Regions from separate parts of the Homo sapiens genome. Here all the other regions are linked to region 1. Evidence: fine-mapped expression QTL. A gene starts in region 1. Each other region holds a variant in brackets. All regions are shown on one strand. Distances are between the middles of the regions. Region 1 holds the start of MAP1B (microtubule associated protein 1B). Region 2 overlaps MAP1B (microtubule associated protein 1B). Region 3 overlaps MAP1B (microtubule associated protein 1B). Region 4 overlaps MAP1B (microtubule associated protein 1B). Region 5 overlaps MRPS27 (mitochondrial ribosomal protein S27). Region 6 overlaps MAP1B (microtubule associated protein 1B). Region 7 overlaps PTCD2 (pentatricopeptide repeat domain 2).

The links. PIP is the estimated chance that this variant, and not a neighbour inherited with it, causes the effect.
Region 2: its variant is fine-mapped to the expression of MAP1B in whole blood (INTERVAL, PIP 0.98).
Region 3: its variant is fine-mapped to the expression of MAP1B in transverse colon (GTEx, PIP 0.98). The same link has a PIP of 0.9 or more in coronary artery, nasal epithelium and prefrontal cortex.
Region 4: its variant is fine-mapped to the expression of MAP1B in tibial artery (GTEx, PIP above 0.99). The same link has a PIP of 0.9 or more in anterior cingulate cortex, aorta, atrial appendage, cerebellar hemisphere, cerebellum and cerebral cortex.
Region 5: its variant is fine-mapped to the expression of MAP1B in prostate (GTEx, PIP 0.98).
Region 6: its variant is fine-mapped to the expression of MAP1B in breast (GTEx, PIP 0.97).
Region 7: its variant is fine-mapped to the expression of MAP1B in tibial artery (GTEx, PIP 0.93).

What each region holds. Positions count from the first base shown.
Region 1 is chr5:72,105,513-72,109,579 of GRCh38, reverse strand. It overlaps MAP1B (microtubule associated protein 1B), which reads right to left and starts at 2,105. Exons shown (of 7, transcript NM_005909.5): 1 at 1,865-2,105. The coding sequence starts at 2,048. It overlaps LOC105379028 (a long non-coding RNA gene), which reads left to right. Exons shown (of 3, transcript XR_007058813.1): 1 at 1-805; 2 at 1,593-1,655. RefSeq lists enhancers at 504-798, 1,204-2,186.
Region 2 is chr5:72,133,435-72,137,501 of GRCh38, reverse strand. All of the region lies in intron 2 of MAP1B (microtubule associated protein 1B), which reads right to left. Among named protein-coding and RNA genes, the nearest start is that of MAP1B, 28 kb to the right of the region's middle. The variant T/C (reference allele first, on the strand shown) is at 2,396.
Region 3 is chr5:72,198,252-72,202,318 of GRCh38, reverse strand. MAP1B (microtubule associated protein 1B) reads right to left here. Exons shown (of 7, transcript NM_005909.5): 5 at 1,952-4,067. Among named protein-coding and RNA genes, the nearest start is that of MIR4803, 31 kb to the right of the region's middle. The variant T/C (reference allele first, on the strand shown) is at 1,727.
Region 4 is chr5:72,208,667-72,212,733 of GRCh38, reverse strand. MAP1B (microtubule associated protein 1B) reads right to left here. Exons shown (of 7, transcript NM_005909.5): 7 at 3,169-4,067. Among named protein-coding and RNA genes, the nearest start is that of MIR4803, 41 kb to the right of the region's middle. The variant G/A (reference allele first, on the strand shown) is at 2,032.
Region 5 is chr5:72,246,689-72,250,755 of GRCh38, reverse strand. The region is part of intron 4 of MRPS27 (mitochondrial ribosomal protein S27); the gene reads left to right. Among named protein-coding and RNA genes, the nearest start is that of MRPS27, 72 kb to the left of the region's middle. The variant TTTAA/A (reference allele first, on the strand shown) is at 2,040.
Region 6 is chr5:72,188,782-72,192,848 of GRCh38, reverse strand. All of the region lies in intron 4 of MAP1B (microtubule associated protein 1B), which reads right to left. Among named protein-coding and RNA genes, the nearest start is that of MIR4803, 21 kb to the right of the region's middle. The variant G/A (reference allele first, on the strand shown) is at 2,448.
Region 7 is chr5:72,321,427-72,325,493 of GRCh38, reverse strand. PTCD2 (pentatricopeptide repeat domain 2) reads right to left here. Exons shown (of 10, transcript NM_024754.5): 2 at 3,230-3,322. Among named protein-coding and RNA genes, the nearest start is that of PTCD2, 3.1 kb to the right of the region's middle. The variant GC/C (reference allele first, on the strand shown) is at 1,812.

The DNA of each region.
Region 1 (4,067 bases):
ATCGAATGGTTATGAAGATTTTGTAGATAGAAAAGCACCTCCTAATATATTCCTATTTCCCAGAAATGCTACTTACAAATAATTTTTTAAAGAAAAAAATCCAAAGTCATTGATTCCCACAATAGCCACACCCAAAGTCAGTATGTGTAAAATTTTTCCAGGAGAAAATTGTGCAAATAAACTAAATTAGAACAGATTAGACCAAAGGCCTATATAGTCTGAAAATGAAGGGTTATTGAGATGCTCAAATAAGACATTTCACTACTGAAATATCTCTTGTTCTTGAATTTTTTGGAATAAAATACTATGACTTTCTGCTCACATTTTTTTTCTTTTTTTTTTTTAAGCTAAAAGGGAAAATCAAGTGCTTTAAAGTTAAACAAAAGAACCAGGTCTGCAACTCCAGTCCCCACCCTGCAGCCTTTTGTTCTGGGGACAAGTGGCCGTTTCCAACTGCAGAGGCAGATGACAAGCATTTATTTTTTCATCTAAAACAAGGTTTTTCTTTCGTCTTTTATTGGGGAGGGGGAGTGGGGAACGAGGGCTGCGTGAACGCCCTTTGTCCGCCTCGGGCTGCCGTAGAGACCGCAGTGCGGACTGCACCACGCCCACCAACCGGTGTCTCCCGGAGAAACGCTTCAGCACCACCCCAGGAGAATAGAGCGCGGGCTGGGGCTGCGGAGGGACCCGGCGACCTCTGTCAGGAGCGAGGGGAGGGCCGGGACGCCAGGGATAAAGGGAAAGGCAGAGACCAGAGCTGCCCACCCAGGGACTCCCAGGGCAACAAAGCCAGGCAAACTGAGAGGTGGGGGCGCGCGGCCCCCGCCAGCCCGAGGCCCGGGCGGAGCGCAAGCCCAGCCAGCCGTGCCCGACGGGGGCGCCGCAGTGTGGGGGGGCAGGTGTGGCGGGCGGTCCGGAGGCACTGCGGCAGCTCGGGTGGGGCTGGGGGCGGTCTCTCTGTGCGCCCGAGGCTGTGCCCGCCGGACCCTCACGGCCCCGCCCAGGGTCCCCGGCGTACCGCTATTCGGCCTCCGCAGAGCGCGCCACTGGTGCGAGCACCGGGCGAGGAGCTGACCCTACCCGCTGACGTCTCCCTCACCGACCCCCTTCAAGCTACCACTCCCGAGGCTGGGACTTCTAAAAGCAGCAGCCCCACCCCGCAACTTGGGGTCCCATTGTCCTTTCTGAGAGCTGCAGCCAAGGCCCCAAGGGCGGTAGCGAGGCGGGCTCTGTCTGGTGGCGAAGCGCAGGCGGTTCTGCATCCCAGCATCTCCCCGGGGAGGGGGGGGCGGGGGGAGCGGGCGTGGCCCTAGGACTAGCCTAGTCATTCTGAGGAAAGAAAGGATCGGGAGGTTTGAAATCAGAAAAGGCGTTTCTCAGGGGCTGAGGTAGCCGTGGTGAGGATGAATCCCACGCGGGCCCTGGCACATGGGCTTCGGCCCCAGGTCTGCGGTGGTGGGGGTCCCAGCCTTTTCCTGAGGCCAGAAGAGGACTGAAAGGAGTGGTTGCATCAGGTCTCCCCCACCCTTCTGCCTCCTGCGGTTGCGGCTTTATTGTGGCCTCTGCTCCCCTGACACCTGCATTTCACTTAGCGGGAGAGGCGGTGGCCAACTCAGCACAGGCTGCGGACTCAGCGTGGTGACAGATCCCTCAAGGTTATTGGAGACTCTCCCTCTGGGTCTCATATCTAATAATTCGGATTATTCTTAATTAGCCCAGAAAGGGTCTGGACCAAGTATGAGAGGTGACGAGGAGAGGCATGGGTGCGGGGCGCGCGGGAGGAGCGCAGTGACCGTCGCGCCCTGGGTGGGGTCGTGTTTGCGCGTCTCCCAGCGCGCGTCTCTGGGGGCGCGGGGCCACTTACCGAGCTCGATGTTGCCGATGGCACGCCGCAGGTGCTCCTCGGTCACGATCTCGCCGACGACCACCAGCAAGTAGAACTTGCTGTCAAGGAAGCGGTGCGACAGGCTAGGCGAGGTGGACGCCGCCGGGTTGGCGATGCTGCCGGACGGCTCCGGCTCGGTGGCTTCCACCACCACGGTCGCCATCCTGCCGGCTGCTGTGCCTCGGCGAAGTGTCTCGCTCCGGCCGCTCCTCTCCACTGCGGCAGGAGAAAGGATTATCTCCGAAGGTACTGTCTCCGCTCCGCCCCCTGCGTCCCCCCTCCTCTGGCGCCGCGCGCCGCCTCCCCCTCCGCCCTCTCCCAGCGCCGCGGAGAGTGCGCGGCGGAGAGGAGCGGGGAGTGAGAGAGGGCGGGGAGGCGGCGCCGCTTTTATATGGAGACTAGGCAGGGAGCCGGGAGGAGGAGGAAGAGGAGGAGGAAAGGACCACCCGGCACATCCTCACGCGGTGGCTGCCTCCGCTCTTCCAGCCGTTGGCCCGGGGCTGATGTCATCTGCAGCAAATCATCTCGCCCGCGGCCCGGAAGCTGGAGGGACGAGGTGTGCGGACAATGGTCGGGGCAGGGCCGCGAGCCAAGGGGCTGGGGCGCCCGCTGAGCTCCTGCTGCAGCCGTGAAGGGGGAAGACGCTCTCAACCTACACCACCCACCACGTACACACCCACTGCCCACTCCTCACCCTCACCCTGTCTGTGCATGGGAATGGGATGAGTTTCCATTTTCGGAGTGGGGGTCTTTTCTCTTGTTGGAGTTGCACTAGTCAGGCCTCTGCCTTGTGTGCTGTGTATGATGTAGCCAGGTTCTCAGGAACTGGGATAGCCACAGTGGGCAGATGCGGGGCTGTGGGTACCCCGCCTAGGAAGACGGAACCTGTCTTTTCTTTGACCTTGTGGCTTTAAGAAGACGAATTTACTGATATTTACCAATATCAATATTTACCACCTTCACTTAAAGAATACATCAAAAATGCAAAACTTAAGCCTACTATTGTTCAGGCCTTGGATTCTACTCTGGCAGGGCCAAGGATGAAAAAGTACTGGCTTTGTGGTGCTCATGGGAAATGAGAGAAATGCAGATGTATTATATTAGATACCAATTTCTTTCCTTAATGTGCTGAACAGATAGTATCAGTAATAACAAAGAATAAAGAGAAGATACTGTCTCTACTCAGCAGGGTTACAGTGACTATAATGTACTTTTCAGTTCCTTGGGGAACACACAAGCAAAATTACCTCGTGACAATGATGTCTTTTAAAATACCTGTAGCATTGGGAATTTTTATTGCCTTTGTTTGTGTTTAGAAGAACTAAAAAATGTGTTTTTTGTTTTTGTTTTTTTGTTTTTTTTTTTAAGGCAGCCTATTTACAACCGTTTCTCACAAACATACTGAATATAGCTTCTGTCCCAGAAAAGGGGAGGAGGGTGAGGAAAGAGCAAAATGTGCAAACATGGTATCATAGAAGACTGGGGAATTCGAGCTTTAAGGAAGAGGAATAGATGGAAATTAGTCAACATAGCTTTAATACTAGAATGCCTGTTAGTAAAATATAGATGATAGATAGATAGATAGATAGATAGATAGATAGATAGATAGATAATCACCTAGATATTCTTAAGATTTCCAAAATAACCCAGTGTCTTAGGTGTTAGCTGCCATGACTTATTGGTCATGTACTCTTTGCTCTTATATCTTTCCTGACACCCTGGCATGGGAGACATGCTGGGCAGCCAAGGGCTGGGGGGTTCCATCCAACATGTCAATCTGATCAATGCAGAATGAAAATACCGTCTGGCCCGCAGTATTTGGGATCTGTGACAGGATCACTAGAGAGTTGCATTCACCAGTAATTAGATGAAGTGTTTCCAACTAGCTGCATTCACCAGTAACTAGATGAAGTGTTTCCAGATAATATTTTGGTTAAGATATTCAATTGCTGTTCAAGAAGTAAGGCCAGCACCAAAGCCCATAACTGGGGTGAGGGGCAGGAAATATGGTGAAGAGCACTGTTTTCTAAAGGTCATCCGTTGGATTCCAGCCTCATCTAGTTTGTGTTTGGTTTTCCTTTCTTTGAACCATTGTTACTTTTATGTATGTAATAGTTTTCTTTTATGCAGTTTATTTCTTTTACTTAAATTTATTTTTAAATGCAATTCTATGTTGCTGTAT
Region 2 (4,067 bases), 28 kb before region 1:
AAATTAAGGGAAGCTCCTGCCATTTAATTCTGAATGAAGATGGATCTCAGCAGTTAAAGATCATAAGCTTTTTATGTAATTCAACTAGAAAATATGATTTAATTTGTGGCTTACATAAAACAATAGTCATGGAACATATTTATTGCCTATCATCCCTTGTAGACTAGTCTAAGAAAATAATACACTCAAGGTTCTACAGAAATTTAGGCTGTCAAGATGATTGACTATAGCAATAGGGCCAATAGGTCATTGAATTCACTCATATATGTGGAGGTCAACACCAGTCTACAGGATCTATCAGCAAATGGTCTGACATGCCTAGGAAGATAAAAATGGAATTGCTGCTTTGTCATAAGCCATCCTTATGAATAAACTGAACTGACTTTTTTGTACTGTGAATTATTACTCAGCCTACAGTTCTGACATAAACAAAAATGCAAATCATGCTAATAACCTAGCCAATTTCATGTGCCATAAACAAGCCTTCAGTAGCAGTGAAGGGCACTTGGCCCATAGGGTGGAAGAAGATGCAGAAATCAGAATCTCCCTGCAACTCAAAATGACCAAATGTAAAATACTCAAAACCAAGTTCACACATTTTTAATAACAAAATAAATCTTGGTATGGGCTTGGCAAAAAATAATAATAATTCACATATTATTTAAGCACCCATATTAGCACCCTCTGGACAATATTTTCCTTGTAGTTTGGCTTGGGGTCAGTAGTCAAAATGTATATGTTTATAGTTTATAATCAGAAGAGGATACAAAACAACTCAAGGACACACCCTAATTGGAGGGAAAGGGAGTGGCTGGCCAACAATTGAGTCAAGGTACAAAACATTAGGCTAGGTGTGACTTGGGGCAGGATCTGACAGAGGGTAGTAGTAAAATGATTATGAAAAACAACTGAGAATGTCCCCCTTTTCCTTCCATCTAGATTATGAGGTCTTGGGGAGAAGGAGGTAGGTTTTAAATTATCCCAGAGAACTGAACCCAGAGATGAGGACAAGTCTTGGATGACAGGGCCATACTGACAGCTTGGAGAGGACACAATTGAGGCCCTGGGAAGATGACCCGACTACTCCTTGAGCCACCCAGGAAAAGAGTATCTGGCCATCTCCAGACAGCAATTTCAGCTTCCATAGTCAATTGCTGATTTCCTGTTTGTAATGTCCTTCCTTTGAATTATATTTACATTCAGGTAGCTTGTGGTAAGAGAGCTGTCCTGTATGTCAGATAGTTCAAGGAGTGCTGGGGGTGGGAATAGAGGAAATGAGGGCAATATTCCATAGGTTCAGGAGAAACTCAGGGGATAGCACATGCCCATGGGTATGTTTAGTACAGTAACTAGCACTTTACTTAGTACCTAGGTGCTCAGCACACTTAAGTACTCAGCACAAGGCAGTGCCTTCTCCTTTATTCCACACAAGGGCATCAGGACAGGTGATTCAGATGGTCTAGTTCTTTCTAGAACACTCCAAAGTTTCCTTCCAACCAGCTCACCAAATGCACTGGCCTTGAAGAACTGTAAATGGAGACTCCTGGTCAAATCCTGTTGGGCTACACCTCAAAACCCAGTGTTATTCCAAATTCTTTCTAAAATATCAGTCCTACAGGAGCAATAATCATCTAGGTAATTGGACATGAAAAGTCCAATGAGGAAAAAGAAATAGCTCACCAGCTGCCTTTCAAGGCAAAACAAGAATGCAAATGGAAAGGTCCCAGGGAAATCTGGATGGAAAATTATCACCTCACAAGAGGGTCTGATCTGGATTGGATTCATCCTTTTTCACAGGATGACTCTGTTCCAGGGAAACTAGATGCTAGGAACATTCTGGGATCCAAATATGGAGAACTGAGAACTATTGTAAGGGTTTCTAAAAACTCCCAAGAAAAATTCACAAGGACTCTTTTTCTTCCAGTGCTTTGGGAAAATTCAAAAAACCTGAAATTCCAAAGCCAGTCTAATCCAGGTGACCCTCAATCTCATAGCTACTGGGTCTACTCCACAAGGAGGAAATCAAGACTGGTAAGAGTTGGCTACCTGACCTGTACTTGCAAAACACTGACACAAATGAGAGAGAGAGAGAAAAAAAGAAAACCACCACCTTTACTCACTCAAGTAATAAGGTCACCTCAGAACACTGGCCCATGTTTTGAAAGGAAATAATTTTTAGAGGTGAAAAACAATGGTTGATAGGTACCAGGCATAACCCTTTGAGATGCAAGTACTATTGCCAATTAATGCCATTGGACAGATGAGAAAGTTAAGGCTCGGAGCAATCCCATAAGCTGCCTACAGTTACATAGCCCAGTAAAAGCCAGAGCTGGTATTTGAACCTAGATTTTCTGACTCAGGGTTATTGTTAGATTGCTTGAAAGGAGGCCACAAC[T/C]CCCTACCCCAAGTCTGACAATGATTTTCTTCCTATTGCGGGAGGGGCTGGAAATGACTGATAAAAATTATACTCTTCCACCAACTCAGCTCTGGGCTCAAAGCATCTGAAACATCAGGATTCCACCTCGCTCCTGATTAATTTTTTCATATGGGAAGGGAACTAAGAGCCTTACCCTGAGACATAAGGAATGAGACTTTAAGACATACTAGATCAATGCCATCACGAAAAAGCAAAATATTTCAGAGGTCTGATGGGACCAGCCGCCTGCCTTCCTTTTCTACTCAGCAGTGGCCAAGTCTCTGCCTTCCTTTTTCAGGAACATTTTCTGCAGCAGGGCCCAGGCCATTGTGAGCTTTGAGAAGAATGATATTCTGCTTTTGTAAGAAAAGGAGGAGATTTCCCAGGCATGCTTTGTGTCCCAGACGCTTTCACTAATTGATAGAGTGCCACTACAGAGTATATTTTTATTCATGCAGTCAGCACATGCCTGCTTCTACGTTTTCAAGTTTTCTTTAAAAAAAAAAAATTCTCCTATGTGGTAAGACAACAGCTTCCGTTAACAAAATGAAGCAAAACCAAATTCTTCTTAATGAAAATGAAAATGTCAATAGGACTTCTCTCCTCATGCTAATCCCCTGTTTGACATGCAATGACATCATCCCCTAGAAGCTGGAGACAAATGTAATGTCTGCTATAATTACAAGGCTTACCCTGCAGAAGAAGGGAGGTGGCCGTGAGGTGCAGGCAAGCCCTTCTCACTGGGCCCTCCTTGGAAATACAATGGAACCCACTAATGCAGTGAGGGAGTCTTGCTGCGACAATACTAAAAGGAGCAGAAATCAAAGGACTTCACTGACCATGGATTCAGGCTTGATGTTCTGATACAAAGTTTATATCCCCAAGTAGCAATTTAAATAAAATTGCATTTTTCTTTTTCAATCAAATCAAACTGTGGTGTCACAAAAGACAACATGTACACACACAAAACTCTCACTCACAAACATGTGAAAACTAAAGTTAAAAAAGAAAGCCCTCATTCATAAGGTGTTCACATAGTGACAATAAGAATGCATGTGACACTTTTGGCGGAAGCTGGAGGTTGCAGGAAGGGATTTTCCACAATATCCATAAAGAAGAAAGGGAGTTTTGAAATGTGACAGATTCTGATTAAAGAAAAATGGAAATGTTTGGCTCTTGGGAACTTCAAGTATAGAGAACTGATAATGCTACAAAGAAACCATAATCCTGAACCAATTATGGCTGAATAATACTGTAGACTTTATAATGGTACAGTTGGTTTGAACACTGAGTCAAGATGAATCAGCTTTTCCTGCTTTACCAACATTTCTTATTCATTTCCTTGAATGGCAAGTTAAAAGCATTAATCATTATTAAGACTGTCTTTGTATTTTGTAAAAGCATTGTTATTTAAACATCTCTTAAAAATGTATTTCTACACTTTACATGCCTTATAGCTACTGAATTTTCATAAATCCTCTGTAAAGTAGGTTCATAGATAAGGAAACTGAGGCACAGAGACCTTGTGCATGAGGTGAAGCCCATATTTGAACTTGGCCACTGTAGCTCCTGGGCCCCCACGCTTTACCATTCTGCTGGACTCAAAGAAGGTTGGAAAGTTTTTGACACACTCTTCAAATACCTGCCCCTA
Region 3 (4,067 bases), 93 kb before region 1:
CTAAAGAATTCTGACTTGTACTAGAAGTTTGTGAGTTACAGTTCTTCCAGTAATTAAACATGTCTGCCAATTTCGCCCTCTACTCTAAATCACTACCATCAACATCAAATGAATATTGCTCACAGAAGCACAAACTGACAGAACTGCCCAGGTTTGCTTTAAAAGTCAATTAGTACTGCAACTTTGCCTTTTTAGACATCTAAAAGCATCTCCAAAATAAATGAAAATTAACTCATTTTCACTTATTACTTTGCCTTTAAATTACCTCTTTAAATGTCCAAAAAAAGTTTTTTTAAAAATTGTGTGGGCTAGGATGTATATGTTCTGGCAAATTTGCAGTTGGTTTTATCTGTTTAAATGGATTTCATGTTTTCTCCTAAGTGCAGGTCAGTTGTCAACTCTTTCAGATGAAAGGGTTAATTATCTGGTGGTTTTTCATTCATTTTAAACATGAAAAAATTCCGATTATTTTCTATGTGCATGTAGAAAGGCCAAATGTGCTGAGAACTGAGCCTTAAAATTGATACTCCATATTGTTTAAAGTAAAAATTTGCAGTTTTAACAAATGTATCCTAAAGTGTACTTAATTGGAGAGCTCCAAAGATTACTCTATCAGATTTTCCCTAATAAATCAGGGCAATGTTATTTAAATTATGTTGTGCCTTACATGTTTGGGTCCATTTACATTACTTTGTGAATTGTGATCTAAAAATCTCTGAATAATTACCTAAAGCAAATAAAATGTATGAATGCCAATCCTTGTGATTGATGTGAAGCAACAAAATGAAGCAGTACTGCCATAGACCAGTTCCATCAAAAGCCCAGGTCATTGCTGAGAACCTGATAAATCTGAGAATCATGACCAAAAACATGAATGATCAAAAATCAGGGATACCTGCTCTTGCCAAGTGGCATTTCATTTGCTTATTTATTTATTTTTGAGAGACAGGGTCTTGCTCTGTCACCCAGGCTTGGCATGCAGTGATACATACAATTCTGGCTCACTGCAGCCTTGATCTCTTGGGCTGAAGTGATCCTCCTGCCTCAGCCTCCCAAGTAGCTAAGACTATAAGCACGTGCCACCACACCCAGCTAATTAAAAAACATTTTTTTTTTTTTGTGGAGACAGGGTCTTGCTATGTTGCACAGGCTGGTCTCAACTTCCTGGGCTGAAGCTAACCTTCCATCTCAGCCTCCCAAAGTGCTGAAATTACAGGCATGAGGCCATGCATCTAGCTTCCCAGTGGAATTTTAATCTGAAATAGCATTGAGTCTCTACTAATGAGGCCATGGGGTAAGAGAAGGGTAAGAGCAGAGCCATCAATGTTTTTCTCTCAATTTTCACCGGACACTCACTGGTCAACTGAAATTATAGTATTTTTTGGCTGATAAGAAAATGGAACACTGCCTTTAATGAGGATTTATCTCCAACCTGGTGATGTTTTAAATAAAAATGTAAACATTTTTAATTTAAAAAAAATTTTTTTTAAAAAAGGACTCTAAATCTTGGGTCTAGACTGGTTGATCCAGTCTTGATGTGAAACCTCTGGTTCTCCTTAGGCCTTTGGGAGCTCCTGGCCTGTGTTACCCTGCTGGATTCTGAGGCCAGTATGGCTGAAACCAGTCTTCCAGAAGCACCTGAAAGACACATCCTTGGTTCTGAAGATTTAGAACAGGGCTGTAGTTGCTGTGTTCGAAAACGGCACAAAATCAGGAATCCCAGTGA[T/C]GAATCACAGCTGCTTTGAACCATACACTGAGCTATTTCCAAGCCTTAAGGCCACACTGGACTGAGATATATACCTTTGGGCAGAGGAGAAGAGTACAGGGAAGGTAAAGCATCAATTGTGCTCCCTCATCTTCCCAGTACAAAGCCAAACAGGGAAATATAAAGGCTGTAAACGCAAGTAGAATGGTTGTGACATATATCCAATGCCCAGCCTTCTCAACCTACCTGCAGTGGCGGTCTTGGCCGACTTGGATGCAGAGGCATTGGCAGCATTCTTGGTCTCCTTGTCTTTCTCTTCCCCACGTGCAGCTTTGACCTCAGGAGTGGTGGTGGGTTTTGCTGCCTTTTCCACAGATTCTTTCTTCTTAGGAGAAGCCACCCTGGACACTTTATCCGAGGATTCTTTCAAGCCCGCTGGTTTTGGTGAAGCTGCCAAGGGCTTAGACTTCCCATCACTCTTTTTGACAGGTGAAGATGACTTGGTCTTTGTACCTGGCTTTTTGGTTTTGGTCTTCTCTTTCAGATCTTTCTTTAGAGCTTTGCCCAGGTTCTGCTCAATGGCCAAGGCCTCTGGGTCCACCATGGACACATCAGGGTGGCGTGGCGAAGGGCTGCGGTCTTGCACGGGAGCTGGAGGTGGGTCCATGTGTTTGTACGTGACAGTTTTGTCTGTGGGGATGGTTTCCGACTCGTCTTCAGAGTCGATATTGGCATCGGCCGTGATGGAGGGGCACTCTTCAGTCTCCGGGGGAACATCAGAGTCGGTCTGGGATGGGGCTGACTCGCTGACTGAGGTGGGAGGGGTTTCATCACACTGTCGGCCCTGTTGCTTTCCTCCTGGAGGCGGTGGGGCTCCCCCTGATTGAGTGAGGGGCTTTTCAGATTCTTCAGTGGGTTCTTCACTGGCAAACCACTCAAGAGGATTGGGATTAATGAAAGAGGGTGAAAGCTCTGTCTTGGGGTGCTTGTATTCACAAGAGGACACGAGGCATAAATCGACATCCTGACGGGCTTCTGAGGGGGACTTCTTTTCTGCAGTGTAGCATAGGTCTGAAGTCTCGTAGGAATATGTGGATGCCTGAGGGGTTCTAGTGATTTTCTCTGCAGTCTCGTAACAGTATGTGGAAGTATCAGGGGTTCGTGTTGTCTTTGTAGATGTCTCATAGGAATAACCTTCAGACTCAGGGAAACTGGTAATTTTCTCAGTGGTTTCATAAGAGTAGCTGGGGTCCCCAAGTGTGTGGCCACCATCCTCAGAGTCATCATAGCCATTGCTGATGTCATCCAGAAGCCTTCTAGACCTCTCAGTCTTTTCATAGCTGTAACCACTCACTTCGGGGGGGCTGGTGGTCTTTTCACTTATGTCATATGAGTACCCACCCTCTTCAGGGGTCCGTGTGGTCTTCTCAATAATTTCATAGGAATAGTCACCATCTTCAGGGGTCTTGGTAGTTTTCCCAATGGTCTCATAGGAGTAGCCACTGTCACTTGGAGATTTTGTGGTTCTCTCTATCTTCTCATAGTAATAGCCACCCACATCTGAGGTCCGGGTGGTCTTCTCATAAGACTCATAGTCATAATCTTCTTCATCTGGGGACCTGGTTGTTTCCTCAGGCTTTTGATAGGCATAGCTAAAGTCACCAGGTGTCTTCCCTCCACTGTCCTTCTCCAGGCCAGGTGTGGACAAATCTCTATTCAAGGCTAGATGGTGTTGCATTGTATCGAATAACACTGAGGCACGGAAGCCATAGGGCTCTGCGGATGCTGCATCTATTGGTGGAGAAGAGGAACTGTGGCAAGTTGCTGTTTTCTCTTTGACTGCAGAGGTAGAATCTGAAAAAGTAGGTGAATATAAAGGAGAGGACTCTCGTGGGGTGAGTGGAGAGATATCAGATTTTGGAGAGAGCTTCTCTCCTTCCAGACTTTGCACTTTTTCAGAGGTGAGTGAGGCATATAAGGACATATCTCTGGGAGGAGCAACATCGGATAGAGTATCTTCTTGGAGAGGAGAAGCGATCTGAGAAGGGGTATGAGCAGAAGAGGTGGACGGGGAGGCCTCTACCTGAGATACTGAGATGAGCTCAGAAAGATCATTATCTTGGGTGTAGGACGGCTCCTCCATAGGTGGTATCTTATGTGATAAACTGGAGTCCTGCATGTCAGAAGGACTGTAGTCCACTTCAGTTGGCCCATTTTCAGTGATGTGAAGCACGCCTGCACCCACTGTAGGGTGATCTGGAGACTGTCGACTGAAGTCCATAGCAAGGGATTGCTCAGGAGATTCTTGGCCAAATTCAATAGACATTGAGGACTGTTCAGATCTGTGATCTTGAACGGGTGT
Region 4 (4,067 bases), 100 kb before region 1:
TGGTGAGGCTGGTCTCAAACTCCTGACCTCAAGTGATCCACCCGCCTTGGCCTCCCAAAGTGCTGGGATTACAGGTGTGAGCCACCACACTGGGCTTTGCCCCAACCTTGATCACAAAAATAATAGTCATATGGAGACCAGGAAGGTAGAGAAAAAGAGAGTGCTAGGTAAATGGTGGAGATTGCAACTTAAGATAAGGTGGTTAGGGAAGGCCTTCCTGAGAAAATGACATTTGAACAAAAACCCACATGGGTGAGATTGAAAACCGTGGAATCACCTGGAGAAAATGCATGTTGAGCAAAGGAAATAGCATAAAGGCCTTGAGATGAAAGGCTGAATGCCTGAGGAATAGCAAGGAGGCCAGTATGGCTGGAGCAGAATGTGTAAGGTGGAAAGAAGTGGGAAATGAAGTCGGAGAGAAGGGGTAGAGGAGGAATGAATTGTGTAAGCCTTCTTAGCCCATCAGTAAAGACATTGGCTTTTACTCTAAGATGAGAACTTACTCAAGAGCTTTGAGCATGGGTGGCATGATCTGACTTAACATTTTTAGAGGATTACTCTACTGTAGCTGCAACATGGAGAATAAGCTAGGAGGGCAAAGATAGGAAACCGGAAGGTCAATTAGGATGCTCCTGCAATAAACCAGGAGAGAAATGATTGACTTGGACAAGGGTAGTAACCGTGAATGTGAGGAGAAGGTATCAGACTGATATATTTTGAAGGTCAAGCCAGCAGTACTTGCCGGCCAGTTGATTTGCTGATGGGCCAAAATTTTTGGCCTGAACAACAAGAATATGTATTTGCCATTTACTGAGGTAGAAAAGCCTAGGAGAGAAGCAGTTTGCAAATGGAGATCAGGGGTTTGTTTGGGGACATGTTACATTTGGTTTAGGGTATTTTAAAGACTCCTATTGGATATCCACATGGAGATTTTAATGGGCACTGGATATATGAATTTGGAGGTAAGGGATGATGTACAGGCTGCAGATATAACTATAAAAATCATCAGTTTACACATGGCATTTAAATTCCTGAGACTGCATTAAAGCAGCATGCATTTCTGGTTTTAGTGGGGACAATCTGAGCCATGAAATAGAGCTGTGTCTGTTGGTGTACGGCGAGATCTCCCTGTGAATCAAGCAGACCTCAGAAGCCCTGCTCCACCATCTGTGAAAACATTGCCAGTAACCCCTGGAGAAGTATCCAGAAGAACTGCTCATATTAAACGAACTAGGTGTGACCAAAACTGCATATATGGCTCCGGTGAATTTCCAAGGCATACAATACAAGATCAAAGAGGAAATAGTTCTGGAATTATGCAAGGGACCAAGAATTCATGAGTCAGGAGTGTGTTAAAAAAAGCATTGTAGGGATATAGAAAATCATCCAGAATGAGCGGTACAATTAAGAAGAGAGAGAAAATATGATCACAGGACCTCAACAGACCTTTGTTGATTTTCTCAGAAGATAGGAAAAAAGAAACTGAAGGAAAGCTGCCGCCAACTTTTCCCCCTCCATTGTGCCTAGATGGGGGGAGAAGGGGATGTAAACAGCAGGGCAGGGTTCAGGTAGGGTGACTAGCCCTCACTGGTTCCCAGGGACTGAGGGGTTTTCTGGGACACAGGACTTTCAGTGCTGAAATCAGGGCAGTCCTGAGCAAACCAAGATAGTTGGCCACCCTGGCTTCAGGCCAGAAGGAAGGCTTCCTGGAACTGAACAATTTGGCAGTGGAATAGAAAACAACTTATTTACTATTTAATTTGAGTCTGATAGATGAAATTAAAATCTGTAAGTGATGATTTCCCACCCTGAGTGCTCACATGCTTAACCCTTTAATTTCTGGAGGGATTTCAGAATCCCTCTTAGCAAGCAGTGATTTCTGATAGGACCATTCAATGTAGCCCCATGGTTTGGAGGGGAAATGTTAAGATCAAAAGGAGTGGATATGACACACAGAGGGATATCATAATAACTCAGGACAGGCTGCTGGGGTCTTTTGAGGCTAAAGGACCATCTCTGCAGACAGGCAGG[G/A]CCCAGTCTTGGAGGTCTCTATTAAGAACCTTATGGGCATGTTTTTTGTGGCCACATGGTGGGAAACTGAAGTGCCAGGGCCTCCCCCATTTACATGCTGCCATTGTGAGCAGTCTGTGCTCCTTAACATATGCTGATCCTGCTCTCTGCTGAGACCCTGTGTGAGCTCTTGTCTCTGCCTGGAATTTACTTTTGGTCCAACCAATGCACACACACACACACACACACACACACACACACACACACACACACTCCAGAGCTCAGCCGAGACATCATTTGCGGTGCTTTTCCTATGGTCACCTAAGCTCGCTCTTGAATTTTAGGAGCCCCCATCACGATGTGGTATCATTGCCTCTGCTGGTCTGTCTTCCCCCAATCAGTTAGGGCAGCAGTTAGGTTATATCTTGTAATATAACCTACTGCCAGGTACAGGGTAAATGTGTAATAATCATTTGAATGACAGGGAGGAAATCCTCCTCTTGTTAGGTATTCTTTGCTACATATATAATCACTTTTTCCCAACAACTGCTAGTTCCTGGGTGTGAGTCAAATCCACAACATATTATGTTAGATAGAGGATATTCTGTAACAGTGAGCAAGGAACTAAGAAAAAGATAGGTACTGAGCACAATTGCTGAATATGACAGGTTCTGGTCTGGTCTATCTTTTCTTTCTTTTTTTTTTTTTTTTTTTTTAGAGACAGAGTCTCTCTCTGTTGCCCAGGTTGGAGTGCAGTGGCACAATCATGGTTCACTACAGCCTTGAACTTCCGGGCTCAAATGATTCTCCCACCTTGGCCTCCCAAAGTACTGGGATCACAGGCATGTAGCACTGCACCCAGCTATCCTTTTTTTTTTCTTTTTTTTAAGCAATAATTTTAATTGTTCCTTCCCTTCACCTCCCAGTTTCTGTCCTTACACGCTCACATCCTCTAGAGCTTGGCTATAAAAGTTAACGAGGTAGCAGTTGCAAGCATTAGCAAGATGCTTTCGGCAGTTTGCCAAAAGCCAGGGAGCCCATCTTGAAAAGAACGTAGTCACCCCCTGCCGTCATGCCCTGACTGCCCAGCATTCTGCGTGAGTGGCAAAGCCCAACTCAGGAACACAAAGCAAAAGACAGCACAGCACACACATGAACTTTTGCCACTTTTGTATTTTATTGTGGAACTGAGTTTTTTTTTTTCCTTTACATCAAATATCCTCAATGGAAGAGGGGATATTGCACACAAATATCATAAAAGCACTACATATTACTTTCACTGGAAACTAATTTTCTACATTAGATATGACTGGATAGGATAGAAGTGATGCAGGATTATAAGACATAATACCATACACAGCTGCAGACTGACACAAACACCATTCAGAACAAGAGAGAGGAGTGTGAAGTGCTTCTCAGCTGGGCTCAAGACCACTTCTTTCCAGTGCTGGAAAGAGGGGCTGCATGCAGTGTAGGAAAAGCGTGTCTCTGAACTGCCACAGGGTGTTCTCGAAAGGGCAGCCCGGTCTTGATGCCACTTCTCCATGGCTCCTGTTTTGGGGAGCTCCAAACAAGTGCAGAGAAGCTGCCTATTTTTTCCCTTCCTTTTCAGTTTTTGATGCTGCCTTTAAAAATCAACTTCATGAAGTCACAGATTTTTTAACAGTAAATAGTTTTAATACCAGGTGAATAACCTAATTGCTTTCAAAGAAATGCTCATCCCTAGGCTGCTTTTGGTGTATTGTTCAGTTGGTTAAAAGATAAAAGCTTACAGTTCCTTTCAAATGGAAACAGGATCTTTTCTTCTAAATCTGAAGCACAAAAAAAAAAAGTTATTATCCTAACTCACAATATCATTACTGAGCAGGAACCTCCTGTGACAGGTGACTAAAGAGAGGCAAGAAAAGCAAATTCAGAATTGTAGAGCAGCTCCTAAGAGCTGAAATTTGGTAACAGAGGGAAAATGAAAGGTGGTAAGATTTCCATTAGCAAATGATTAAATCTTAATTAAATGAGTATTGGAAAGCTCCTAGACTGCATAAGCTATTGGAGACACT
Region 5 (4,067 bases), 140 kb before region 1:
ATATGTGCATATTTTTACTGTGTTTGGTTCCAAAAAGAATTATAAGCCGGCAAAATGCCTAAATAGCTCCTATGTGATTTTCATAATAACCCAGTGATTAAGGTATTATCATCTCTATTTTAAAAATGATAAAACTGATTCTTAGGTTAAATGACTCAGTTAGTGAGTCGGGGCTGGGTTCTAATCAAACACAGAGCAGCACTTTGTCAGAGATTTACCTGGTGGCAGTGCAATTAGTTTTCACAGTGAAAGTGGCATCGAGTCCTCTCTCATGTCTGTGATAACAGTAATTTTGTCACTTCTTTCCCTACTCTTCTGCCCCTGGAGAAGCAGCATTACTGTGGTTTGGTTCAGTTCTCTATCAGACAGGCCCTTGAATGCAGAGTCAAAAAGTCATGCACCTTGAAAAACTCAACACAGAACATATCCCTAAGTAGTAAAAGTATAACATGAGAATGATGGACACCAACTTTCTTGTTCTAGAAAGTGAGAGAAGCAGGGTACAACATTATCTCTAACATTTTTATTTCTTAAATATACCCAAGGAAACAAAAAAGACAGACTATTGGGAAGAAGAGAGAAAAGTTGGATTTATTTTCCTATTGAGAGCCAGTTTTTCAAAATTTATTATCAGGGTGTTATGAAATAATCAGTGTTATATACATGGGAAATTACCTATGATGCTTATAAATTAACCTTCTAAACTTGTTATCAATGCTCAAAAAATACTTGGAGTTTTTTTGTTATTTTTGTTTTTTTGTTTTTTGTTTTTGAGATGGAGTCTCGTTCTGTCGCCCAGGCTGGAGTGCAGTGGCGTGATCTCAGCTTACTGCAAGCTCCGCCTCCCAGGTTCACTCCATTCTCCTGCCTCAGCCTCCCAAGTAGCTGGGACTACAGGCAGCTGCCACCACACTCGGCTAATTTCTTTGTATTGTTTTAGTAGAGACGGGGTTTCACCGTGTTAGCCAGGATGGTCTCTGTCTCCTGACCTCGTGATCCACCCGCCTCGGCCTCCCAAAGTGCTGGGATTACAGGCGTGAACCACTGCGCCCAGCCTGTTTTTGTTTTTTTGAGATGGAGTCTTGCTCTGTCGCCCAGGCTGGAGTGCAGTGGCGCCATCTTGGCTCACTGCAACCTCTGCCTCCCGGGTTCAAGTGATTCTCCTGCCTCAGCCTCCCAAGTAGCTGGGATTACAGGCACGTGCTGCTGCGCCAGGCTAATTTTTGTATTTTTTAGTAGAGACGGGGTTTCACCATTTTGGCCAGGCTGGTCTTGAACTCCTGACCTCAAGTGACCTGCCCGCCTCGGCCTCCCACAGTGCCAGGATTACAGGCGTGAGCCACCACGCGGGGCTGAAAATACTTGTTTTTGATCATCCCAATCTAACCTTATTGAAGGCAAGGAGATGTTTATTCTTCTTTGTCTCTTAGTGCCCAGCATAATATCCTGATTCATAGTAGGTTGATAAATGATCAAATGCAGAAGAGAGGAGCTTTGACCTCATCAAATGCTCCATTCTGTTGTAATAAGTAATTTCATATAGGTATAGAAGTAGAACTATTCTCTCTGCAGTTTAACATTCAGTTTTGCCTTATTCATGCTTAAAAAATCCCAGCTTTCTTACTTTTTTGCCTAAGATTATTGAAGGAAAAAGTGTATCTGTTCACTAAAGGCTGCATTCATTGTAGCAGCCATGTATATGTGGACAGTCTACTTGCTACCACACTTGAAATTCTGCTTAATGTGCACTCATAAAGGACAAGCTCCCACCCCTTCGAACTCAGTGTAATTGTTCAGTATATGAGCTTGTGGTGTTTAAGAAACTAGGGAGGCAGAGGTATTTTCATAGCTTGTTATCCTCTTCTCTCCCACAAAGTGCAGCCATGATCTGACACATGATCAATGGGCCGAGCCCTTTTTAGGATGCAGAAGATGCTCCCTGTGTCTGTGGATCACAATAGCAAACAATAGCAACTTCTGCAATGATATTTTGCCTCCCTGGTGTTCAAACTTCTTCAGTTAAGCCTGTCTGGAATCTA[TTTAA/A]CTATTATACATCAAAGCTTTTTTTTTTTTTTTTTTTTTTTTTAAATGAAAATGGTGGGGGTGGAACCAGAGAGGAAAACCTGTATCTTTGCCAAGGAGCCCTCTCTCCTTCCCCTATGACTCATACTTAGGAAAGCTGAGGGACTTTGGAAAGCTGCCTGAGTCACATTGAGGCAGGTCTCCTGGCACTTTCAGACACTTTTTAAATTTTCTCAGGCAGTAAAAGATGTTTTTCAAATTGTTCATTCCCTCTTTCTGGGCCAGCCTAAAAGCTTTTGTTTAGCTAAAGTATGGCTTTTTTATGCAAGATTTGCCAGCCAGAACAGATGAACCCGGAACTTTGTATTTGGTTTATTACTAAAGAAACAGCTCTTTCATATTCAGAATTGTAACTGTTCCTTCTTATGATTGTCATCCTATTAAAAGGAATTGCCTCTGGTACTTAACCTTCCTATGACATGAAGTTTGCATTTGGTCATTGTTAAGAATTTTCTTAGCATATTTTGTTTGTATAATTTCAAATATTCAGTTTTTAAAAATTTGGTTTTTGGTATGAGAGACTAGCTTGAGCTAAATAGAGGAGCTGCCTATTAAATGTATTATAGTCATACTGAGTTTTACTATTTGGCAGCAGAAGAAAGAAAGGTCACCTTAATTTTTCTGTCTTTACATGTAAACAACTAAGGGTTTTTGTTTGTTTGGTGAGTGGTAAAGTAAACCTTTCTAAAAACCAATTGGACTCACAAATAATAAGTCTCAATTTTTAAATATCTTTCCTTTTTAAACTACAAATAGTCATTATGTTCCAAAAACTGTCAAGTAATTTCTTAATATCTCTATGCCCACCCTATCCTACTCCCCTTTTTTTAGAGTTCAACCATTTCTGCTATAGGAATTGCCAGATAACAGAGGTTTGATAAAGTAACAGTATATAAAACAATAATTTATATTATGTAGGAAAATTACTTTGGATGACTTTCTTAGATATAAGATGAATTGCACTGAAATATTTGAGTAGAAAATAAAATGCTTTACTAATGGAGTGATCAATTGCTGAAAATTTTATTTTCTATAAAACTTGATCTTCAGTTATAATGTACTTTAGGGACCTTAAATTTAACTTTAGCTGATTTTATCATTTCACCTTGAAATTTTAGATGCCAATTTGCAGGGCCCACCATTCCCATAATAATAATCTCTGTTGCCTGCCCAAAGTGGGTACCATATGGTGGGGGAATGGAGGCTAGTGGAATAAAGTAAAATCAGCTGTGGACTGAATGGTTGCTCGTTTATCTTTGAGTCTTTATTCACTTGTTTGTATCACTGCCATTTTTCTGGTTTAATAGAAACTTGTATATGACTGATGTTTTAATGAGTAGATATAGGCTTATTGTCTTTTACAGTCATTAAACTTAAGTGCTGGAAGGAGTTCCGGGGGTCTGGTCTAGTCCAGAGTTCAAGTGTATTTTGTTTGGCCCGTAAGCTGTGTTTTTATAAACAGTATAATGAAATCACTTTGCTTGATTGTAATACAAGCAGCTTTGTACCTATTGTCTTACATGATTCATGCATTTATATTAACTGACTGGCCCCTGTAGACAGTTGAGTTTGTGATCCAGATAACCGTACCTCTTCATTTTACAGTTGCAGGAACTGAAACCCTGAAGGATCAAGTGACTTTCCAAAGTTAAACAGCTAGTTCAGGGCAATTCCAGAACTGTTTTACACTGAGTTTATTTTTCTGTTGATTCTGCTCCTAAATTTAGAAGAGATGTTTATTTTTCGCTGTTAGAGACCTTTGTGAAACCACAAAAATGTTTTTTAAAGATGTCCTACAAATAAGTTGAGAGGCAATGGTGGAATAATGAAAGTGAGGGGTCTAATTTAGGTCCTATTGCTAACTATCTTGGGGAAATCATTTTATCTCACTATATACATCAAGATTCCTCCTCTATAAAGTAAAGGAATTAGATTACATAATTTTACGTCACCTAGAACAGGGCTAGTAAATTCTCAATAAATAG
Region 6 (4,067 bases), 83 kb before region 1:
TATTATGGCCATATATTTCATGGTCTTAGCCTAGCAAATTAGTGATGGAGAATCATGCCATCAACTCCAATATTCTTTCCGTCTCAGTAAAGCTCACAAATCAGCTCAGAGTTTCGACTGAAAAGGGCTCTGTATTCTGGATGACAAATGATCAAGGGGTAAAGCCAAGGTTTCATTTGGTCCAGGCATCCCTGAGCCAGCAGGTCTGAACTCTTACCTTCTAGTATTAGATTAGTTTCCTCTATCTCCTGACTATCAGCATTCTGAGGCTACTATTATGAATGTGTGTAAGAATAATTTATAGAATCTGAGTTTTCCTATATTCGACTGCAATATTGCAGTAAAATAGTCATTTTTGTTTTGTTAGCATATTAGTCCTAAGCATAACATTTTATGTAAAGGGCCGCAAAATAACAAAATAATAAAACTTTGCTGTTTTTCTGTGACTTCACAATTTTCTGTAAAAAGGATAAGAATCAACTCCTGTTTTTGGGAGCTAAGAAAAGTGAAAAAGCAAATGGTAATACCATCTTTGGGTAGAGGGGACAGGCATCTTTGCTCAAATGATTTGCTGGCCAAAGCAAACATAGGGCATCAAATATGGTTTTTTGTACAATAGTTAGCAGAGACTCTCATCACAATCACTATAGCACAATTAAAAGTCTCTAGATCCCAATTTTCACACAAAGCACATGCAAACTATTCATGTTTTATAATATGTTTTAGGGGGCAAATCTAGAATAACTGCTGTATCTTTAATAGTGAAACTTAAAAATTAAGTTTAGTTCATTTTAATTTTTGAAATTCCACCCTAGCTGAGAGGTGTGGCAGCCAAGGGTATAATCCAGCTGTGAGTAGGGGGCATTCAATCACTGGCTCTTTTTATGTAAAGTATGTAATTACCAGGTTGAAGCAGAAGGTAGAAAGACTTAAGGAATATCTTCCTACTTTCCGTCTTTTCACCTCTATCCAGAGAATTTCTATGAAATGCAGGAAATGACCCCAAAACAAAACAAGATTGCACAGAATTCTGAGAAGTCAGAGGTCATGAAAGATAGCCAAGAGACACTGGTGAATGAACAACCGTGATGTACAAGGCAAAGCAGAAAAGAAAGCCAGCATTGCTTTGACAGGTTTCTTTCCAGAGAAGGAAAATCTGGTCCCTCTGAAGAAACAGCAGCACATTCTGAATGATGAGACAAGAATGCAGAGACAGGGCTGGACAGAGCCCTCAGTCATAAAACAGACAGATGGAATTGGGCAGAGGGAGGAGGAGGAAGAACAACTCCTACATCCTTGGAACTACACAACAGAATGAAGCCCGTGTTTTCCCCCACAGCCTCTTTCCAGACCTGTGGGCCAACAAGCACAGTAGAGAGTGCCTCAAGGGCAAAGACAGGGTCTTAAGAGTGGCCAGCCCACGGCAGCACCTGACCAAGCTTATTCAATGAATAGATGAGAACCATAAGGAGGATCCAACAATGTTAGCAGTGGCAAGGAAGCTTGTGACTAGTTCTTAGACTTGGAAACTGAGGCTTCTTCTGAACAAATTGGGAAATCATCACCATGATAAATGGTAACTATTATAACCCACTACTCTAAACATTTCTGATAGCAGGAAATATATCTTCTGTATCTTTGTATCTTAGTTATCTTTGTTTCCTCAATACATAATCAGGCTCAGTAGATGTTTGTTGATCTGTGTGCCAAACTTGGCCAGTTCAACACATGTTATCTTCCTGGAGTGGGTACTTCAGATGTAACCACACTGAGTGCTACCCTGGTTCTTACAAAGTTGGATGACAGATGCAACAAGGAGGAATATGCTTTGGGACAAAGATAATCTTTTTTGTTAATTACTTTTTCTGATTAAATGCAGGCATACTGGAAGAGGAAGGAAGATGTAAGAAATAAATGGTTTTACTGCAGATGAGATTAATGAAACAAGATTTGAATTTCTAAACCATGGCCTACGAACTACATTTCCTTTTTGATTAGGTTACTTGCTTGGCTGATGAGGAAATACAGTAGACAGTGTATCTCTGGGTTTTAGCCAGACATTTAATAGGACCCCTGAACAGTGTGATAGTAGAATTAGGTGGATTTCCAGCCAGCCATATAAATAGTGCTGCTTAATGTCAACCTGGAGGGAGGTCTATGATGGGCTGCCTCAAGTCTCATTTTCTGGCCTGTATTCACTTGGATAAAAATGGCGAAGGCATGCATATCATATTTGTGCATGGTATGAAAATGGGAGACACAGCAAAATGTGGAATGGCAGAATTAAGGTATTTATAAAAGCTCTTGACATTGGGATGATGGTGGCTAAGTCAATTCTAACAGGATGGCATTCTAAAGGGATAAATGTAAGGTTCAATAAACCAGCAGGGTAAACTACAGGATTGGGAGATGTGGCTTAACAATAATATCCATGGAAAAGACTCAGG[G/A]ATTTTAGTTGACAGTCAAATGGATTTATCATGAAGCCAAAGAAGCTTAAACTTCAAGGTACCTCATTGGCATGGCCCTGTACTTAACTGTATATTAATAATTGTTTCATTTTTCTTAAAAAAGAGCCCTTAAATTATATAAATTGTCGAGCCCCTCAAAGCCTGCATCTCTTCCCCATTGACTTCCCCATTGACCATTAATGGTGTATGGTGATGGTCAAAAGTCACTTTTAGACTTCTTTAATAGAAGATGGTATTGAAAACTATAGACATTATCAACTCTCACAATCCTAACCTGGTCAAATGACTCCTGAATAGGGTGTCCAGTTTGAGTCATGACATTTTAGAGAAATTAGACCAACAAGCAAAAACCTGAAACAAGTCTCCCTTACTGGCTCCTTCCTCTTGGCCTTATGACCTGTCAACACTGGACCTGGGCCCTTTCTCTTCTTAAAATGTTTCTCACTCTAGGTCACATCATGTGTCTTCTGGGCTTCAAATACCTCTAATATGCTAATGGATTTCAAATTAGTATCTCCAGCCCGACTCTGAGTTCCCTGAGCTCTGTTCTCATAAATCCAACTGTCTGATTTCAAGGCACTAAAACATGACCAGGACTAAACTCCTGAATTCCCCCCATACCCATCCCATCTCCTCTTCTTTTTATTTTATTTTTTTAATGTTTTAAGTATAGTTTTTTTTTTTTTAAGAGACAGAATCTTGCTCTGTTGCCCAGGTTGGAGTGCAGTGCAGATTATAACTGAGTGCAACCTAGAACTCCTAGCCGCACGTGATCCTCCCACTCTGGCCTCCCAAAGTACTGGGATTACAGGCATGGGCCATAGCACCTGGCCTTCACCTCCCTTTCTTGACAGAGGAACAAGTTTGAAGGACAGTGAGCAGGGTTATGAAGAACTGTGGGTAAAACTGAAGATGATTAATCTGAAAGGGAAAAAATCGGCAGTGTTGGTGAAGGGTAACTAAGACACTGTAGGTGGGAAAGGGATCACATCACTTCCTTGAAGATACAATGAGACAAATAAGGAAAAACTTTCCAACACAGAGACTGAAAAATGTCCCCAGGAGATGATGATTTCACCATCCCTGGATTTCAGGGAGGAGTGGGGTTAGCCAGACAATTGTACCGTCTGTTAGTTCTGGTTTTGTTAATTGATCTCCAGTGATTAAGACTCCAAAACCTGAAGCTCAAAGTGTACTGATAGTTCTATTTTTTCAGTCCATTTATTTTTAGCTGTTCTTATATTTTTTAAAAAGTATCATTTTTGTTTGTCCCAAATTGTGGTTTTGGTTTCCCTGGAGTTAACTAGTATGTTTCAAGGACTGGATAAAAGGAAAAGAGCTGGACAACAAGTGGTCTTCAAGGTCCGTTTGTTATTCAGTTACTCAACCATTTTTCCAAGGCAACAATGGGCAATCCTAGCTCCAAAAGGCTGATAACCACTGGTCCAGTCCAGTGGTTTTCAATTCACTTTAGCTGTGGCATCCTTTCTTTGTGGGTGGCAGAAGAGAATATGACATGGTCTCTGACCATAATGATACCTGCCTGAGTATAATCAAAATATGTGTCCTCCAGAACCTACCCCAATAAGTATAAACCCT
Region 7 (4,067 bases), 220 kb before region 1:
GAGACTTGATTCCTCATGTGTAAATTAAGGATCGTGGTACCTTCCTCACAGGGTTACCTGAGATGATATATGTAAAGCATTTGTCATTCGGTAACTGCCAGTAAATAGAAACATTATTGTTCTCATTTTCATTCCTTGTGTCACCTGTTAGATCTAAGAGGATTTAGTCTATTAAATATTTCTAAGCAACTTCCAGTCTAAAAAGTCTCAAGTCATCAAAGAGATGACGTTACATCTTGTACTCCTTAATCCTCCTTAATAAACCTTAAGAGGCCGGGTGCAGTGGCTCAGGCCTGTAATCCCAGCACTTTGGGAGGCCAAGGTGGGTGGATCACTTGAGGTCAGTAGTTTGAAACCAGCCTCGCCACCATGGTGAAACCCCGTCTCTACCAAAAATACAAAAAGTAGCCAGGTGTGGTGGTGCACGCCTGTAATCCCAGCTACTAGGGAGGCTGAGGCACAAGAATTGCTTGAACCTGGGAGGCAGAGGTTGCAATGAGCCGAGATCATGCCACTGTACTCCAGCCTAGGTGACAGAGCAAGACTCTGTCTCAGAAAAAAAAAAAACAACACCTTAAGAATCCAGTATTTCAACAGATATAACTTGTGTTTTAAAACAAATCAATCAACATTTGTTTATCATATAATCATACTCGGAAGTATCCTTCTTTGTGTGTGAGACACCAAGAAGCGTAAGGAATAGTTCCTGCCCTCAAAGAACTTAAAAGCATTTTGGGGAGGGCAAGCTAAATTTATACAAAGCTACCTGAAAACAATGATGGAGGAGGTGACACATGAATACTATAAACATAATAAGACTCTTCTGTCCTGTTACGACACCTATTACAACTCAGAGTGGACAGAAGAGTCCTGTTACAACCTTTACTATTATGACTCAGAACAGACCAGGTTGGTGAAAGTGGAGGGGTACCAGTGAGAAAGGAAAGGGCTGAAATCAGGTTGGAGAAATGGAGGAGGGGGATATTCTAGGTAAGGAAATCAGCATGAGCAACAGAACAGAACTGGGAATGACAGGTGTGGAGGGAAAAGCTGTGACTAGATCAACCAGAAACCGTCCTAGAAAGGGCGGAGTCCATCACGGGAGAGCCAGGATGCCAGAGAGATGAGTATGTTAATAGTGTGGTATACAACAGAGTACCACTGTGGGCTCTCAAAATGATGAAAGGTTGACAGGACTTTAAACATATCAGTCTGACAATAGAGCAGATTGGCACTGATTATATTAATTGCCTTTCAGAACATGTACACAACTGCCACAGACTTATGAAGACTATGACAACTGGAAATCACAACTGGATGACATGAAGCCCTAACTGCAAACCTCACATAGATCTAAAATACCTGGGTAGAAAGAAAAGACTGAAGTGAAATCTAGATTGAGCCTACTCAACTGGGGATAAATATATTCCCCCCATTCCAAAGGTTTATTTTTTTGCCCCCTATATGGTATTATATAACAGTATGATTAGCGGAGCAGCGAGAGAACATTGATTTCTGGAGGACTGAATTGTGAGGGAATGGAGGCAGAAAGTATCAGGATGGGTGCAGTGGCTCACGCTTGTACTTTAGGAGACTGAGGCGGGATACTAGCTTGAGCCTGGGAGTTCGAGACCAGCCTCAACACAGTGAGACCATCTCTACAAAAAAAAATTAAAAATTAAAAATTAGGCGGTATGGTGGCACTGTAGTCCTAGTTACTCAGGAGGCTAAAGCAGGATTGCTTGAATCCAAGAGTTTGAGGCTGCAGCGAGCTATGATGGTGCCAACTGCACTCCAGCCTAGGTGACAGA[GC/C]GAGACTGTCTCTTAAAAAACAAACCAAAACAAAGAGAATGTTAATGTGTTAATCAGGAGCTCACAAACATCTGGCAGTGAGAGGAAGGAGAGCTGGGTCTATGGTTGAAAAAGTCAGTAGGGACACCAAGAGTTATTAAAAAAAAAAGGAAAGTCTTAGATGTGTTCATAAAGGAGGATCAAGGAGGTATATCCACAACCCCCAGGGACCACTGCTGCATCCACACACAATAAAAGGTATGAAATGCTGGGAAGAACTCTATGTGCAGGAGGGAGAGAATGAATGCACAAGATTTTTCAGGTGCTGAAAGGGAAAAAGACCTAGGGTGGTGTTCTTGTTTGTAGCTTTTTATAACAAAAATTTTCAAACATACCCAAGAAATGAAAGAACAGGATAATAATCCCCCTCACTAAGTGCCATTACCCAGCCTCAATCATTATCAATATTTTGCTAATTATGTTTCCTCTACACTACAATCCTCAAACACACTGGATTTTTTTTCAAAGCAAATCCCAGATTTATCTTTTTTTTGAGACAGGGTCTCACTCTGTTACACAGGTTGGAGTGCAGTGGTGTGATCATGGCTTACTGCACCTTAGACCTCCCAGGCTCAAGCAATCCTCCCACCTCAGTCCCTGGAGTAGCTGTGACTACAGGCATGCACCACCACGCCCAACTAACTTTAAAAAAATTTGTAGAGATGAGGTCTACGCTGCTCAGGCTGATCTCAAACTCCCTGGCTCAAGCAATCCTCCTGCCTTGGCCTCCCAAAGTGCTGGAGTTACAGGCATGAGCCATCATGCCCAGCCAAATCCTAGGTTTGGTAGTCAGGTTTCTCTTGTTTTTTAAGAAATTTTTGATCCTACTGACTTTTCTAGCACAGAGTGAAAAATACCAAATGTATCATCACACATAGTACTGTTTTGTTTCATTTGATTTCATTTATATATAGATATGTTTGTGTGTACTGAGATGCAACATAAAATGCATTTTTCACTGAAGGTTACATCAAAAAGTTTGAAAGCCAATCATCTGAAGTTTTTAAACTTTATTGTGCATATGAATGATCTGGGGCCTTTCTCTCTGCACTTCTATCAACCACCCAATAGATGCTGATGCCGCTGGTCCTCAAACCTCACTTTTAATGGCACAGATTTAGACAAGACCAATCGCAGCACTAGCTTTAATACTTCTCTGGGATCGTAAGAGAAGGAATAAGAGGAGAGCTGTAGACGTTGTAGCAGCAAAGTATGAAATGCAAGATAAATATAAGAGTTCACTATGAAACTAACAATAAATGGTCTCAACTTTTTCTAAGGCATAATAAAGTCACTGAAGGAGACACTGAATAGGGATAAAGACAGAGAAACTTAAATGACAGATAAATGACAGAATTAACAAAATAGATTCTATTACCTTTAGTGCCAGAAAGATTACATGCAACAGCCACTTTCTTTTGTTGAAATTCTTTTAATTTCACCACATTATCTGTAAGTAGGTATCTTTTAGCTAAAAATCAGAGAAAGAAAAAAGTAAAGTCATTTTGACTGTTTTAGAAGTTAGCAAATAACATGAATAGAGCTGGATTACCTCTAACATCTATTATAGATAATCCATTAGACAGGTACAAATATAACTGTACAAACTGTACAAATATAAATCCTGGGAAAAACAATTTCTGAACTACCAGAGAATGCAAATCCTCAGCAAAACAGGTTTTATTTGTGTGTGTGAAAGAAGCTAGTGATTAACCGTAGCTAGTGATAAACCTGTGTGGGGACTGGTTGACAGGAAGTTGGGATTTGAAGTACAAATGGGCATTTGCCATCGGTTAAGGGTATCAAGGGCATTTAAAAAAAAAACTAATAACATTTAAATGCAAAACAGGCATATTTAGTTTTGGTTTATCCAGGGAGAAGCACAGTGTAGTGGAAAAAGCTGCAGCATGACCACTGGAACTCCCAGTTTTGTCCTCTGTGAAATGAGGGGGTTAAGGCCTCTCAGATGTGGACTCAAAATACATTTGAGATACATGGAAATCATTGATCACAGCTTAGTAGATTTGGGAAACATCATCCTTTCTTTAGGATCCTTGGCTGTGCATGAGATAAAACGGACCAAGCGTGGCCGAAGAATCACGCACTAACAGAGTTCTGTGAGCTGCAGTAACAAGGTAACAATAAAAGTTGCTATTTATTTACAGAAAGGCAGTCCAGTGAAGTGGTTAGGAGCAGGTTTCTATTGTTGGGTGTGT